Linked DNA regions of Homo sapiens. The protein of the gene in region 2 interacts with the protein of the main gene of each other region in a pairwise test. Each region holds a gene or a part of one and is shown on either strand. Other genes may lie near its edges.

Evidence for each region. The genes of interacting proteins can lie anywhere in the genome.
Region 1: the proteins of EFHC2 (region 2) and HDAC4 interact in binary tests that used the Homo sapiens proteins (3 or more experiments, as listed by UniProt).

Annotation. Positions count from the first base shown.
Region 1 is NC_000002.12:239,131,807-239,139,135, forward strand, and holds part of HDAC4 (histone deacetylase 4), read right to left. Parts: intron 2,838-7,329; coding exon 2,721-2,837; intron 2,638-2,720; coding exon 2,439-2,637; intron 2,433-2,438; exon of another isoform or gene 1-2,432. UniProt on the Homo sapiens protein: Responsible for the deacetylation of lysine residues on the N-terminal part of the core histones (H2A, H2B, H3 and H4).
Region 2 is NC_000023.11:44,172,386-44,179,714, forward strand, and holds part of EFHC2 (EF-hand domain-containing family member C2), read right to left. Parts: intron 6,180-7,329; coding exon 5,982-6,179; intron 5,824-5,981; coding exon of another isoform or gene 5,822-5,823; intron 4,000-5,821; coding exon 3,907-3,999; intron 1-3,906. UniProt on the Homo sapiens protein: Microtubule inner protein (MIP) part of the dynein-decorated doublet microtubules (DMTs) in cilia axoneme, which is required for motile cilia beating.

The sequences.
Region 1 (7,329 bases), on a different chromosome or scaffold from region 2:
GACTGAGAAACTGAATTCTAATTCTGACTTATTTATTTAACAGCTCCCCGTGGCTGGTGGCTCCTGACCTGGCCAGTACTGCTCTAGACAGCGTGGGGGCCTCCAGGCCTTCAAGGAGAGTCCGGTGGATACAGGAGGACAGACCGGAGGGGAGGAACCTGCACAGGAGGCTTCTTCCCACAAGAAGATGGGGCAATCCCAGCGGGTTCCAAATGAGGGCCCTGCTCATGGCGGGGCTGGGGGAGGGCCCCTGAGACACTGAGGACGGACAGGGGCTGGCTGGGGGAGTGAGAGAGCATGGGAGGTGGCAGGTTAAGAACAAGGCAATGACTACAACAATGATGCCAACACCTGCAGGGGCACATGAGTGCACAGCCCACTTAACCCTCATCAGGCTCACGGGGGCGGACCGCTTAGTATCCCCACTTCCTAGATGGGAAAACAAGGCACACAGAGCATAAGCGGCTTCCCAGGGTCATGGAGCAGGAGAAAGCTGGGACAGAGGCGGCTGTGTGGCTGCACTACGCTGCACACGTGACACTGGCTCCGAGGCTCCCTGCCAGGGGGTTTGCAGGATGAGCTGCTGGCAACCTGGGGAGGCTGTGCAGGAGAGAAGGGGCTTGCAGGGTTTTGGAGGTGGCGGCATAGGACTGGAGGGGCTTGCTGGGCACAGGCGTAAAGCAAGGCCAGAGCAAGCTGGGCAACCATGCATGGGCCCCCTGGTGGCACAGAGCCTGGGCAGGGCACGGTGGGCAGGTCCCCATGCCAACGAGCAAGCTGCACCTGGGAGGAAAAGAGGGATGAGCGCACACAGGGAAGAAGCAACGCCGAGTTCAGTGCGTTTCTCAGAGAGGTGAGACCCATGCACACTCGATATCCAGGTTCTATCAAAAAGGCTGTTTTCCAAAAACCTGATACACAAGATTACGCATGCTATTTAATCGTGCAGAATAAACTGATTTAGAGAAGGAAAGAAGATAAGTGACAAACATCTCTGACGAAGTGAATCCCAGGAATCCTGAAGATCAGGCACATTTTACGTTTTTAAAGACAGGCGAGAAACTCAGGTGTCCTTCACTACCCACACTCGTGCCAGCTGATCTAGAGCATCCAAGAGACTCAGACGCAACCTCAGATACATTCCTCCAGAGAGATCCGCGTGCCTGCCACTGTGGCCGCAGCTCAGAGAGGCACTGTGAGGGCTGCCCCCTCCCTCGTTACACCACGGGCTCCTCTGCTCTGGACAGGCAGGGACACGAATTCAAGCTTCTGGAGAAACAAACAGAAAGGGGCTCAGGCACAAAACAAAGATTGCGCCATTTGGCTTCTGGGCAAAGAAGGAATAAGAAGGAATCCTCTCTGTCTAAACAGAGACACATGGGCAGCACAAAACAAGAAAACACCAAAATCCACCAGACTAGTCAAGCCAGAGGCCCAAGCCCACCCAAGCCAGCCCCTAGCCCCACGCATCCTGCAGCGCAGCCTCCTACAACACGCCAAGCCCCTGAGTTTTCACCAAGTTCACTGCCAGAGTTTCACAGGTGCAGCTCTGAGGGTATTTCAGCTTTCAATTGGCAACAACAGGTTTCCAGGAAGCCAAACACAAAGCTATGAAGATGTACAACGATGACCCGCACGGCAAGGGGGTAGGTAGCTGCTCCCTCATTTATTTATTTTTGAGACGGAGTCTCGCTCTGTTGCCCAGGCTGGAGTGCAGTGCCACCATCTCGGGTCACTATAACCTCTGCCTTCCAATTTCAAGCAATTCTCCTGCCTCAGCCTCCCAAGTAGCTGGGATTACAGGTGTGCGCCACCACGCCCAGCTAATTTTTGTATTTTTAGTAGAGACGGGGTTTCACCATGTTAGTCAGGCTGGTCTTGAACTCCTGACCTCACGTGATCCGCCTGCCTCGGCCTCCCAAACTGCTGGGATTACAGGTGTCAGTCACCGTGTCCGGCCGGTGTGCCCTCATTTCTGAAGTGACACTTTCACATTGCTGTTGCTATGTAATTTCATAAGGACGTTCCCATTTTCCTCTAAATTGTATTTTTCTAAATGTAACCACTCCCCCAGACAGTGCACATTTGTAAAAGTTCGCTAACACAAACTGACCACAAGAGTCGGTTCTGGGCTTCCAGCGCTGGCTCAGCTTGGTCCAGACAGAAACCCAAATCGCAAGAGCCGGTGGCCTCTCCCAAAAGGTGAGAAAGGGGAAGTGACTTCTGTTTCCACTCCATCTACCTGACTCTGGGAGTGAGGCATGGATTTTCACTGCAGTCACGGTGGCTACATCACGTGATGGGGATGTGTGTTTGGGAACTGTGGGGGTGGGACAGGCGTGCATTCCTGTCTCCTCCAAAGGCAGGCGAAGGCGGGGCACCATCCAGAGCGTGGGCAGCCTCAGAGCCTGGCTGCACCCAGGCCCATTTGTGCTCACCTGTGACGAGGGGTGCTTGTGCCGGCGGCTGCTCCAGTAAGACCATGTGCTGCAGAAGAGGGCTGTGCGCTGCCCCTCCGTCCCGCTCCAAGGGCGAGGTGCTCAGGTAGGGAGTGAGGTGGGTGCCGGGGAAAAGGGAGAGCCTCTGCTGGAGGGCGGGAAGGGTGAGTCTCTCGGCGTCCTGCTGGCCCGCCGTGCCCTGGAAAGCACAGCCAGGATGCTCGGGTGGAAGGACCCATCACCACCACCCCACACCACACGGACCCACGGGGGCTGACTTACCGCAGAGGGGCCGGTGGCAGGCAGGCCCAGCGTGATGTTGGGCAAGGATGGCGATGTGTAGAGGGGAAGTGGAGCGGCCGAGCCTTCTCGTGCCACAAGTCTGTGCGCCAAACTCGTCTGGGGACAGAACACACGATGACCATCACAGTCTGTCACGGCCAAACATCAGCAATATACACCAAGAAAAACAACGATGAAAACACCTGCACTGAATTCTGATATATGAGCGTAAACGTACATGTAACAAATGAGACAGCAATGAGAGCATGAGATTTCAACACGTGCCACAACATGAAAGCACAATTCACCACTCCAGTTTCCTCCTCCCGATACGAGTTCTTCTTCTGTCACCTTGTCCAGCATCATCTCGTTGATTTCTATTCAGTTTGATTATTTACCACAGAACAGTTAGAAGGAAATCTAGGCTAATATAGTTTACAATGCCGTTTTGCAGTTTCTAGGATAATATAGTTTACAATGCTTTTTTGTAGTTGGCAATGTCTTTCCAGACATAACATCAAAGGCAGAAAACAAAAAGGAAATAACATTTAACTGTACATTTAAAAATAACTATAAGGGTATGATTGGATTGTTTGTTACACAAAGGATAAGCACCGGAGAGGATGGACATCCCACACTTCGCATGACGTGATTATTACAAATTGCATGCCTGTATCAAAACATCTCATGTACCCCACAAATATATACATTATGTACCCACAAAAATTAAAAATAAAGAGAAAATCATAAAACAACTGCCTCTACGAAAGGTGGGCAATGATGACAATACTGGCCATGTATGAGGCAGACGAGGGTCAGCACAGAGAGCTTGCAAATCAAACAACTAACAGTGAGAAAAGCACGCGGTGAGGACCAGTGACGGCAGAGCTCAGGAAGGGGAAGGCGCTCAGGAAAACACATCATGGTCATCAAAAAAGGTATTCTGAAACCCAACAAATTGGCAAACACTTTTGAAACATGGTAATACCATCTTGGCCTAGAGGAACGGCGAACACTGTTGGGTGAATCACAAATCAGTTAGTGGCACCCTTTCTGCAGGACAATTTGGCAATCTATGTCAAAGGCCTTCAAAATCTGTCTAACCTTTGATGCTGGAGCTCCACTCTTGGGATGTAACGTTAAGAAATAAGGAGATGGCCTGATGCCCATGAAGCCTCCGCTGCAGGGCCGAGCACCCAGCAGGCATGGCAGAGCTATGCGGCTTCCCCGACACCTTGGTGTTAACAGAACGGAGGGGCATTGCACACCGGGATGCTCTGGGGGTTGGGAACGATCTAGCTGATTACTTGGACACTTGTTTATGATACATTAAGTTAGAAAAACAGGTTATAGATCATGTACCTTTTAAAGAATGGGCTTGGATAAAGCAAACACAAGCCAGGAGTAAAGATTAGAAGGCCACACAGGAAGAGTCAGCAGCAACAGTCTCCAAGGACTTGAACTACTGTGATATTTAACATCTTTTTGCTTGTAGAATGAACGTGTTTTGCTAAAAAGGACAATAGTTTATCACCACTATATCCCCTACACAGTAGCTACTCAAGGAATGTCTGCTGAATGAATGGGCAAACAAAGAGAAGGAATAAAATGTTGTTGTAATCATGCTAGTTAGTGGGGTTTGGCAGATAGAAATCCCCTTGCCAGAAGCTAACGTTAATAATGAATAGATAACAGATTTCATTATACTCTCTACCTCCATGACAGCAACGTTTTTAGCTCCCCCAGATGAATGAGAAAATGCCATGTTTGTCTTTCTGTGCCTGGCTTAGTTCACTTAACATGAGGGCCTCTAGTTCCATCTATGTTGCTGCAAATGTCAGGGTTCTATCCTTTTTGATGGCTGCATGGTATTCCACTGTGTACAGCACCACATTTTCTCTGTCTATTCATCCACTGAAGGACACTGAGGTTGATTCGACCTCTTGGCTATTGTGAAAGATCCATGGCTAAGACCTCAAAAGCACAGGCAACAAAAACGAAAACAGGCAACTGGGACTCTGCTCAACTAAAAAGCTTCTGCACAGCAAAGGAAGAGAATCACCAGAGTGAAGAGACGACCTGTGGGAAGGGGAAACATGTGCAAGCCATTCATCCGACAAGGGAGCAGTATCCAGAACATGCGGGAACTCCAGCAACTCACCAGCAAAACCTGAAGCAGCCAGTATAAAAGTGGGCCAAGGATCTGAAGAGACATTTCCCCAAAGACATATGACTGGCCATTGGGGATAGGAAGAAACGCTTCTCCTGACAAACACTTACACTCAGGCTGTTCCTACAGAACAGAAAGCCCGGCCTTCTCACTTAGGAGCAAACTCACGGCGCACCTCGCCCCAGAGGAAACCCTGCAACTCCCTTTAGATTTGCTCACATATTACATTGTGTAAGGAATGATTAAAGGGCTACTGAGGAAAACATTTTTCCTAGGCAATTTTTTTTTTGTCAAAAGTTAAAGAATTATCAGTAAGTTATGCTGTAGAGGAAATGCTTGTGTTATCATTTGGGAACAAAATAAGGAGACGTTCTAATGTTTGCAAAGTTTTCATTTCCTTTGTAAGCAAGGTTTTTTTTAAGCCCATTTCTGGAACTAAAGGAGGCTTCTGAGAATTTGTTCCTTGGAGATGCCGACTGGTCCACCTGAGAAATCGCAGGGCGTTCTGGCATCTGCTGCCTCGGGGCCGAGCCCTGCGGGAGGCATTCTGAGGCTGGCGCCCCCGGACCGCATCTCAGCATGTGCTCAGAGGGAAAGTCCGCGGGCCTGAGGTCAGAGCATCCAGGCACGCGTGTAAATAACAGCAGCAGCGGCCACAGAGGAGCTGTCCCCTTACGCACCTGGGCGACTTCCTCTCACTCTCTGAGCCCTGCCTCCTCCCTGTAGAGGAGGTGCCGGCACACTGGGCTTCCCTGGCCTGTAGAGGAGGAGGTGCCGGCACTCTGGGCCTCCCTGGCACTGTAGAGGAGGAGGTGCCCGGCACACTGGGCTTCCCTGGGTCCAGGGGGCCTTCAAGGTACAGTAGTGTTTCTAGGGACCCCAGGGTGAACAGAAAAGGCAGTGCTGAGAGCCAGGCTGGGAGGCCCCTGCTCCCCCCACATCCTCATCCACTCGAGACACCCCCTCTGACGGGCAAGCTCACTACACTCTGCACCACGTGAGAACGGAGAGCCAGCCCCTGGCCATGAAGCACAGGTGTTCTCACAGACCCGTCCAACTCTAGAGATACTGAAACCCAGAAAGGGCGCCTGGGTGTGATCCAACATGCAAAGGCTGCCCGTGCCCACTCTAATGAACATCTGATGTGGAACATGAACAATGGCACCTCTTGGTATTTCCTGTAACTCCTTCTACATGTTCTATTAATTTCCAGTAGCTTCATTTACGTATCGTGATTTCTAAAAATTAACACAGAACTGGAATGATGCAGACCCACCCAAACAAGGCACTGTTCCAATATTAACTACCATGTACATAAGTGCCTCATTTTAAATAAAAACATGTATCTAGGACCACAATCAACAAGATGCAACCAGTGTTAACCTCAGGGCAGGAAGTAATTTCTAGGTTGCATTATAAGGCTTATTACTGGTAGACCTCAGCTATGACCACAGCCATACAGAGGACTGTTAAAACTTCTAATCATCTAAATAAGTACTGAAGTTGGCAGGCTGAAGAAGACAGGTAATAAAAGAAATCGATGTATGAAGTAGAAAGAGTAAGAGAAATTGGGGATTAAGCAGCCTGGAGACAAAGGGCAAAATTCGTTCTGAGCAGTAATTCTAGTCTCTAAAAATGTTTATACATAAACGGTCTTGAAATTTGAAATGAAAATGCTAAACACTCATGCCTCTGTATCCCAGCTAAGATTTGCCAATCCTTTGGAAGGGCAGGATTCATTTCTAAATATTTAAGAAGGAAAGTCAATAACTATATTTAATAAATTATAGCCTTCTGTAAGTTGGAGAGAATTCAGAAAGAACCTCCCACTCAGTAGAACTCTGCCCCATGAAGCAGACACAGCATTTCCAGCTCAACTCATCAGAAAACTCACTGCTAAAGCGTACCCCTCCCACCCCTGCCCTGCAGTCAGGCCCACCCAGGCCCAGGGCACCACTCAGCCTGCGGGACTGCCTCTCTCTGCCTCTCTCTTCTTCCCCGTGCTCTGGGGGTGGCCTCTCCTTGTCAGTGGGGCATTGTGTGGAGTGTGGGGCAGGTCCTTGCTGCCTGCCTGGTTCTGTCCCTGGGCCTGGCACAAGGCGCTCGGGACACGTGTGGGATAAAGGCAGGGGGCGCAAAGGAGCTCAAGGAACACGGAGCGAGGTCCTCGGACCTGCTGCCCTGGAAAGCCTCCGAGTATGGTCAGTGTGCGACTCGGCCAGCCTGGGCGCCACTCCTCCCTGCCTTGCCACTCAGCTCCTGCGTCTCTGACATCTTTCCCACCTAGGGACTCCAAGCGTCCCCTGACTCCTCTCTAGCTTGCCAATGTCCCTCCCAGACTGTGGCACCACTTGGGGTCTGATGAAGGCAGGGGACCAGGGGTGCTGAGCTCTGCGGTCTGAGATGCCTGGTTCCCGTGATGCCTGGAAAAGTTCCCCG
Region 2 (7,329 bases):
TACAGAGGAATATGAATATCCAAATGAAGGCTCAGAGGGGTTGAGTAAATGCCCAAGAATCGCATGGTCAGGAAACAGTAGAGTTGACCTGCAGAGGCAGGAGCAGCTCTGGTGGACACCGAGCCCATGTTTTTCTACCCCATGTCCAGTGCGTTAGCACAGGACAAGTCTTTGAGGCTGCAAAAATGAACGAGATCTAGTCCCTACCCTCAGGAGCTCAGATAGAGGCAAAGGTTTAGAGTATCTTAGGCAGTTGTAGTTCTACTTCCATTAGAGGCTCATCTTGGCCTGGAGCACAGTCTTTCAGTGAGAGACTCTCAGAGTTTATACTTATGAAATGAGGAATAATGCCTACTGCCAATTAAAATGTACCTTTTAATATGCTCAAAAATTTACAAAATATTCTAAGGCCCTTAGCACTACATCAATACAAAGTATCACTCCTATTATTAATGGATAATCGCTACCACTATATAGAACATTTAAGTCTGATGCTCTGTGCATTAATGAAATGAATTTGCTTGGTAAGTAAGGTGACCTTATACCAGCTCCCACAGCACAAACTGACAGGGGCTGAGGTAACCAGGTACAAAAAGGTTTTGAAGTCCTGATTCCAGTTTGAGTTATGTTAACATAATAAGGAAAAGATCAAGCTGAATTATAAGAAAAATGGGAATGGAGTAGAAGGAAAATCCTGGTACCAAAATATAGGGTTAGGAGAAATACATGGGTAACAATTACTGGGTGAAAGAAAGCATCCAACCCTTTAGCCATATTGTTTTTCATCTCCTGATCTGAATTTACACAGCAGGGTTACACGGCTGCTCAGCAGCTGCCCAGCTCCATTCCAAGGCAGGTAAAACTATTCCTGGGCAAGAGCATGCATTGAACAAAATCAACAAGCTCCATGCCTGCCTCCCACGGGAGACTGTAGACGTCAGAGGGGGCTCTGGCTTAGCGTGCCATAAGGAGGGCTGTGCAGAAAGAGACTCTGGTCAGGGCTCTGTAAAGCCCTGTGGAGTCTGTGGGGAACAATAAGAATGCAGAATATAAATGTAAGCTGCAGGCTGATGGGCCCATTAGGAATTAGGGCAGTCTTTGAAAGGAATCTGCAGAGATGATGCAAAACACTAAGCATGTGACCCAAATCATGGCAGGGCATATTGGAGGGAGAGGGGAATGGGAATGAGACATTTTCTAATCTGATTAGTCTGAAGTTTCCCCTGAGTGTGGAGAAGGGTCACTGCACAATTAGAGGCAAAGTTAGACTGAACATGGTCTGCTTAGCAGCTGAGCGGGATGACCTCCTCAAAGCTAAGCTGGGCTTGGAGACAGATGTGTTCAGAGACTGAGATGACTTCGAAGCAAGTTCTGAAACAATCTTTTTGCATTTAATGTCAAATCGTAAAGGCAAAGACAAAACAGTCTGCTGAGAGAATGAGAGGATGATGACTTGGTGGCCTCAGCACTGGATAAGAAACATGTAGGTCCTCCAGAGGCCAGGCTCCCACATTACTGGACTTTCCAGGACAACTCATCCTTAAGACCATCAAAAGATAATCTAATAAACATCCACAGCTTCCTGACTAGAAGACAGCTTAATGTGTGAAAGGCATTCAGATCCAATTGTTGAAAAACATGGCTTCCTCTACATAGAAAGACACAGGTTTCTTCCAGTTCATTTCTAAGTCTGAGTGTGTGGTCTATGGTCCCTGACTTAAATTTCTCTCCTAGTCCTCAATCAATTCTTTGCACCAGGTACTGTGCTGGGTACTTTATGTATGTTATCTCAATTAATCCTCTGAACCACTAGGAAATAGGTACTGTTACGTCATTCGAGAGATAAGGAATCTGAGGTTCAGGCAGGTCAAAACCCTTGCACAAGATCACACAGCTAATAAGTGGACTCAAAGAATTTAAGAGATGGGAGTGGAGGAGGGGGGTAAAATTGTCAGGATGTGACAACCCATTGGTTATTTATAGGTGGTAAATCACACAGAAGCAGTGTCTGCATCTGAATGAATCGAAGTTCAAGTCACAACTCTTCATTCCAAGGTAAGGGATAAAGAGACACATAAATAGCACTGTGAGAATTCTGAGCAGGAGATAATCACTCTGATTATCAGCCAAACGAATGCAACAGAGCTTCATGGATATGGTGCCACTTGAAATGGGTCTTGAAGGAAGAGCAAGCTTTCAGCAAGTGAAAACCATTGGGAGCTATTGCCTACTGATGAAATAGCAAGGGAAAAGGCCAAAAAAAAAAGGGGGGGGGAGGGGGAAGGCAGGAGGTATATGTGTAATATGCTAAACGGCCCATGTGGCTGGACTACTGGGAACAGGAAGGGGAGTTTTGGGAGTGGGGGATGATATCTGTGAAGAACTCTGAGTCCAAGGCCTGCCTACTTCATCTCAGTTCCTTCACGGCAGGATCCCTCACACGGCTGCTAGCAAATAAAAGCAAATAGAGTTAAACAAAAACAAAATCAAAACAAAACAAATAGAACTGATAATCTAGAAAATTATTCCAGGTTGATTCAATGCACATACACATCCAACTAGATTTGCCCTCTTCTGGGTTTCCCTCCTGATACCTTGGACCCTAGTTCCCTGACATAGAATTTGGCTTTATCTGTTCCTTTGGTTTCTCCTTTTGTCTCAAACAAGGACTCCCTACTTCAGACCCTATTTGAGAACAATGCTCCAGCTGCGAACCCTAAGCCCCACTATGGAGAAGGAGCTTAATTCAAAGTTAAAGAGCTGGTCCTTCCTTAGAGAGCAAAGAGACACCACAGAAGGTTTGTGAGTAAAAGTGCAATAAGATGACATACATTTTTGCTCTTAGAAGGTACTTAGCTGCTATATGTAAAGATGGATTTAAACATTTAGACACTGGTGGATGAAAGACCAATGTGGTGGCACCGCAGTATTTAAGAAGCAATGTGGGTCAGAACAAGAATGATGATAGTGGAAATGGAGAGGAGAGAGTAGAAGCAAGCAGTAAGGAGGAGGTAGAACTGTCAAGACATCCTAATCTACTGGCTATTTGTAGACAGTAACTCAAAATGATTAGAAGCAGAGGATGTGCATTTGAAAAGTTCAGGATTCAAATCAGAGCTCTTCTTCTTCTACACTATGTGACTTTGGGCAAAATACCTCATCTCTCTAAACCTCAGCATCCTTACGTATGAGATAAGAAGGATAACAGTTTCGACCTCACCAAGCTGTTCTCAAAAAGTAAATGAGATAATATATCCAAAACAATGATCACAATGCCTAGAACACAGCTGAAAATGTCAGAATTATCAAGATATATAAGTCAGAGGAGGAGCTAGAGTGAGTGATGCTATAGGAAGCATAAGAGATGGCCAGAGTCTAGGTGGCTGAGAGGGACATGCCAGGAAATCAAAAGTCAGGTTCAACAGGAGAACTGATGTGTTTTAGAAAGCAGTTCACCATGCTCTCATTTTATAGCATCATAATCTCTATGTTTTACATCTGGTGCTCTATCAGGACAGAGCCCCATGCTAATAACCCTAGGTTCTCTTACTGCATGTCTATAGCTATCAGGAACTGCTGCTTTGAAAAACCTGCCCTGAATTTTACATCTAATGTCCTCCTAACCAACAAAGTTGTGTATTTCATTTTGTCCCAGGAATCTGTGGATCTATAAGTGTGTATTCATGTTAAAAAGATAAAATAATAATTTGTAATAGGCTCTCTAACATTCAAAATCAAGACAAACTTTTCCTTCTGTAACACTTAAATGGAGGCAGGTCACCAATAATATAATCAAAACAGTTAAGGGTAAATCAAGGGTAATTAAAGGGAGATGTAAAACCAGGAATGGTCCCCCAAATAAAACTATGCAGGACAATCCCTATCAAGAGTGGAACTCTAACTTACCTTGACAATAAGGATTCTAGAAGATCATCACTCAAAGGTAATCTGGAGGATTTGCACAGCCTTTTAATGTCTTTGGTGGGTAATACATTTTTTCTGCATTAAAACAACGTAAATGAGCTTTTATATACCTTGTATACCTTTAGTAATAATTACATACTATAGGAAAGAAAATACATTTGTGATGTTTCCTGAGAATGTACACATGGAAGTATGAAAATTGGTATTGGAATTCACAATAAGGAAGAACAGTCACATTTCATTTCATCAACTTTTTCTATTTCAGAGGCCACCAGACTCCATCCTTACAAAGGCTTTTCCTTCAAGATGCAGATTCTTGGTTGGTGACAGTACAGCCTATTAAGGCTACAGCCACAAGTGTTGCTCTAAGTAATTGATCTGCATTCTTGACCACTAGTCAAAAATGGTTCTGATATTTGAAAACATCTCTTAATTTGACAGGCATCTAGAGCCTCCAACACAAGTATGATATGACTTGAGGGTGTTTTTCTGTTCTTTTCCTTGGACCCAAACCTTATCACCTGGAAGCCCCAGCTGGGGCCTCAATATTCACTTCAATTTTTTCAGATGCTAGCAGTTTTCTCTAGAGCAGCCCAAAAGTCATTTTCTCCAGTCTTATGGGGGCAAAGACATTCTTGTCCAATGTTCTCATTCAGCCAACACTTTTCCAGGCATCGGGCAAAATTAGAACCAACAGGAAAGAAAGTTGGCTCTTTTCTTTGCAATGAGAATGTTTATATCTAGAATCAAAGCTTGATGGATCTGGAAGAACCTCAGGCTATCTGGTCAAGCAGCCCCATTGTTCCTAAGAAGTGTTCCTTGAATGAAGGAGGGCCACACTTCTCACTCTGGGGAAGGGGGCAACACCAGGGTGGAAGGCAGGGCCAGGGCCATGCAAAACTCAGGCCACACATCTTCTAGGAAGCTTGGGAAAGCTTAAAGAGTCAAGGAAAAATACCATCTTTATAAAAACTCAAAGAGGATGCATTATGGATTAATAAAAAAAATGATTATTTCTAAGACAAACTATGGGACCTACACAGATATTCAGGGAATGCAGTTGGCCACTTGGGTTCAGACTTCAAGTTTGGGGATAAGGCAAGAAGTCACAAGGAAGAGAGATGGCAGTGGTGTGCAGCAATACGGATTAGAAGCTAGAGCAAGAACTAAGATTTTTCTAATTCCAGATGAAATCAGTAAATTTATATTTCTCCCCACTGTATAAGGTCTGTAAGATGAATGCAAAAAAAACACATTAAGTTGTTTGCATCCAGTTGTATGTAACAATGACTTAATGAAGCTCAACACGCACACAATCAATGTATAAGAAATAGCTTATACTGAACTTCATTATTTTCAAGAAGAAATAATTTCAAAGAAATTCTACAGAATGTTTGCTTGAAAATTCCATTTTCTATTTATTATAAAAGTTACATTTATAAATCCCCATCAGTACTAAAATAATGTAAAAAGACGACATCTCAGAATTAACCCTCCTAACATTTTGATTTACTATGCTTCAGTTGAAAGCTTCTAGAAACAAATGAAAAGAACATGCAAGGGAGAAGCCTATTCTTTCAAAGATACAGGGCCTCCCCTATTCCGTCAACAAGACTAGCCTGGCCAACATGGTGAAACCCTGTCTCTACTAAAAATACAAAAAAAAAAAAAATTAGCTGGGTGCGGTGGTGCGAGCCTGTAGTCCCAACTACTCAGGAGGCTGAGGCAGGAGACTCTCTTGAACCTGGGAGGTGGAGGTTGCAGTGAGCCGAGGTTGCGCCACTGCACTCTAGCCTGGGCGACAGGGCCAGATGCCATATCACACACACACACACACACACACACACACACACACACACAAGCTCTCCATCACTGGGAAATATCTGTACCTAAATACTTCTCCGAAAATGATTTAAGGTGTTTGTGCTAAATAGTAGAGTATGAGTATGATGACACATGTCTATTTTCTTTTTGCACTTTTTGATAAAATAGAAATTCCTTCATTACTCAGGTTCACAGAAATGTAAATGATTAGAATCAATAAAACAAAAGCTTACTTTTCTCGATCTTCATACACACAGGAATAAATGAAAGTGTCGAAATTCTCAAACATATTTTTCTTGAACTTTTCGTGGGCCAGTGCGATTAAGAAATCCATATCTGAACATGTGCCCTCAGGCACACGGTAGTGACGTGCAATGGTTACAAATTCTTGCTCTGCAAGGTTTCCAACAGTCAAAGACATCAATATGTCTCTGTAATAAAAATGGAAAAACATTTATAAACTGATATCTAAGAATACAGTATTTTACATCTCCTTCTATTTAAAAGATCCAAATTCCATTTTACAAAACTTTTACCAACTGTACAGAGGTCATGTGATTTTTTTAACTTAATTTCTCTTCTTAATTTGGGAGCAGCAGGAAGGCACCAATGCCAGAATGGAAAATCATAGGCACTGTAGCTTATAAATAAAATGGCATTTTGCCCAGAGTTAAACACCTACCAAATAACAGCCTGCAACCAGGAAGTAAATTTTTAAAGGCTTTGAATGGTCAAAAAACCTATTACTAAGTACATGACTTTATTCAATGCCTATTAATCTTCCTTACACAAAATAGTAACAGGCTTGGGTTTCTGGTTTCCTGGGACATAAAATTTGTAAGTTAATAAATTAGAAAGGTGTTTTGGGATGGGGAAAGCAATCATGCACATTTCTGTAATAAAAAGTAAAACTGGACACACCCTGGCAGTGAGAAAAAAAAACAAGAGAAAAAAAAATGAAAAGTTAAAAGACCTATGTAAGCGTACAGCTGTCTGCATCTTTAGAAGGCAAATGGTACTGAGATTATTAGGCAGAGCTAAAAAAAAAAAACTAAACAACAACATATCAATGAAGACGACTCAAGGCCTAGCAAATTGGCTGAATTGTTTTCAATGTAACTCTGTATGAAAGCCATAAACTAAGCAGCATACACCAGACAGAATTATATCAAAATGATTAAAATGCAAAATGTTATGGTGGTTACAGGAATAAGCTTCCACTGTCTAGAAAATTTATTTACTGGAAATAATTCAGTTCCCAAGAATCCTGAATAAACAAGGGAATAGAAAATTTTATTTGGCCTTCTGCTAGAAAGAGGTCTTTCAGAATAAATGCTTTCAGTTCTTTTAGGTATTTCTGGACATTATCATCTAATAATTCTAGATTCTCCTAGTCAAGAATTTCCATAGAGTCTAGGAAAGCCCACAGCATTGATGTTGACCTATCTAAAGGAAATTCATTTAATCTACATCTACTTCTCAAGTTTCCTGGGTTGTTTTGTTTTGTTTAAATTTGGTTTTGCTTTTGTATTTTTAATGGGAAATGAATGCAAAATCCAACCAAGATGATCCCAGAATTTC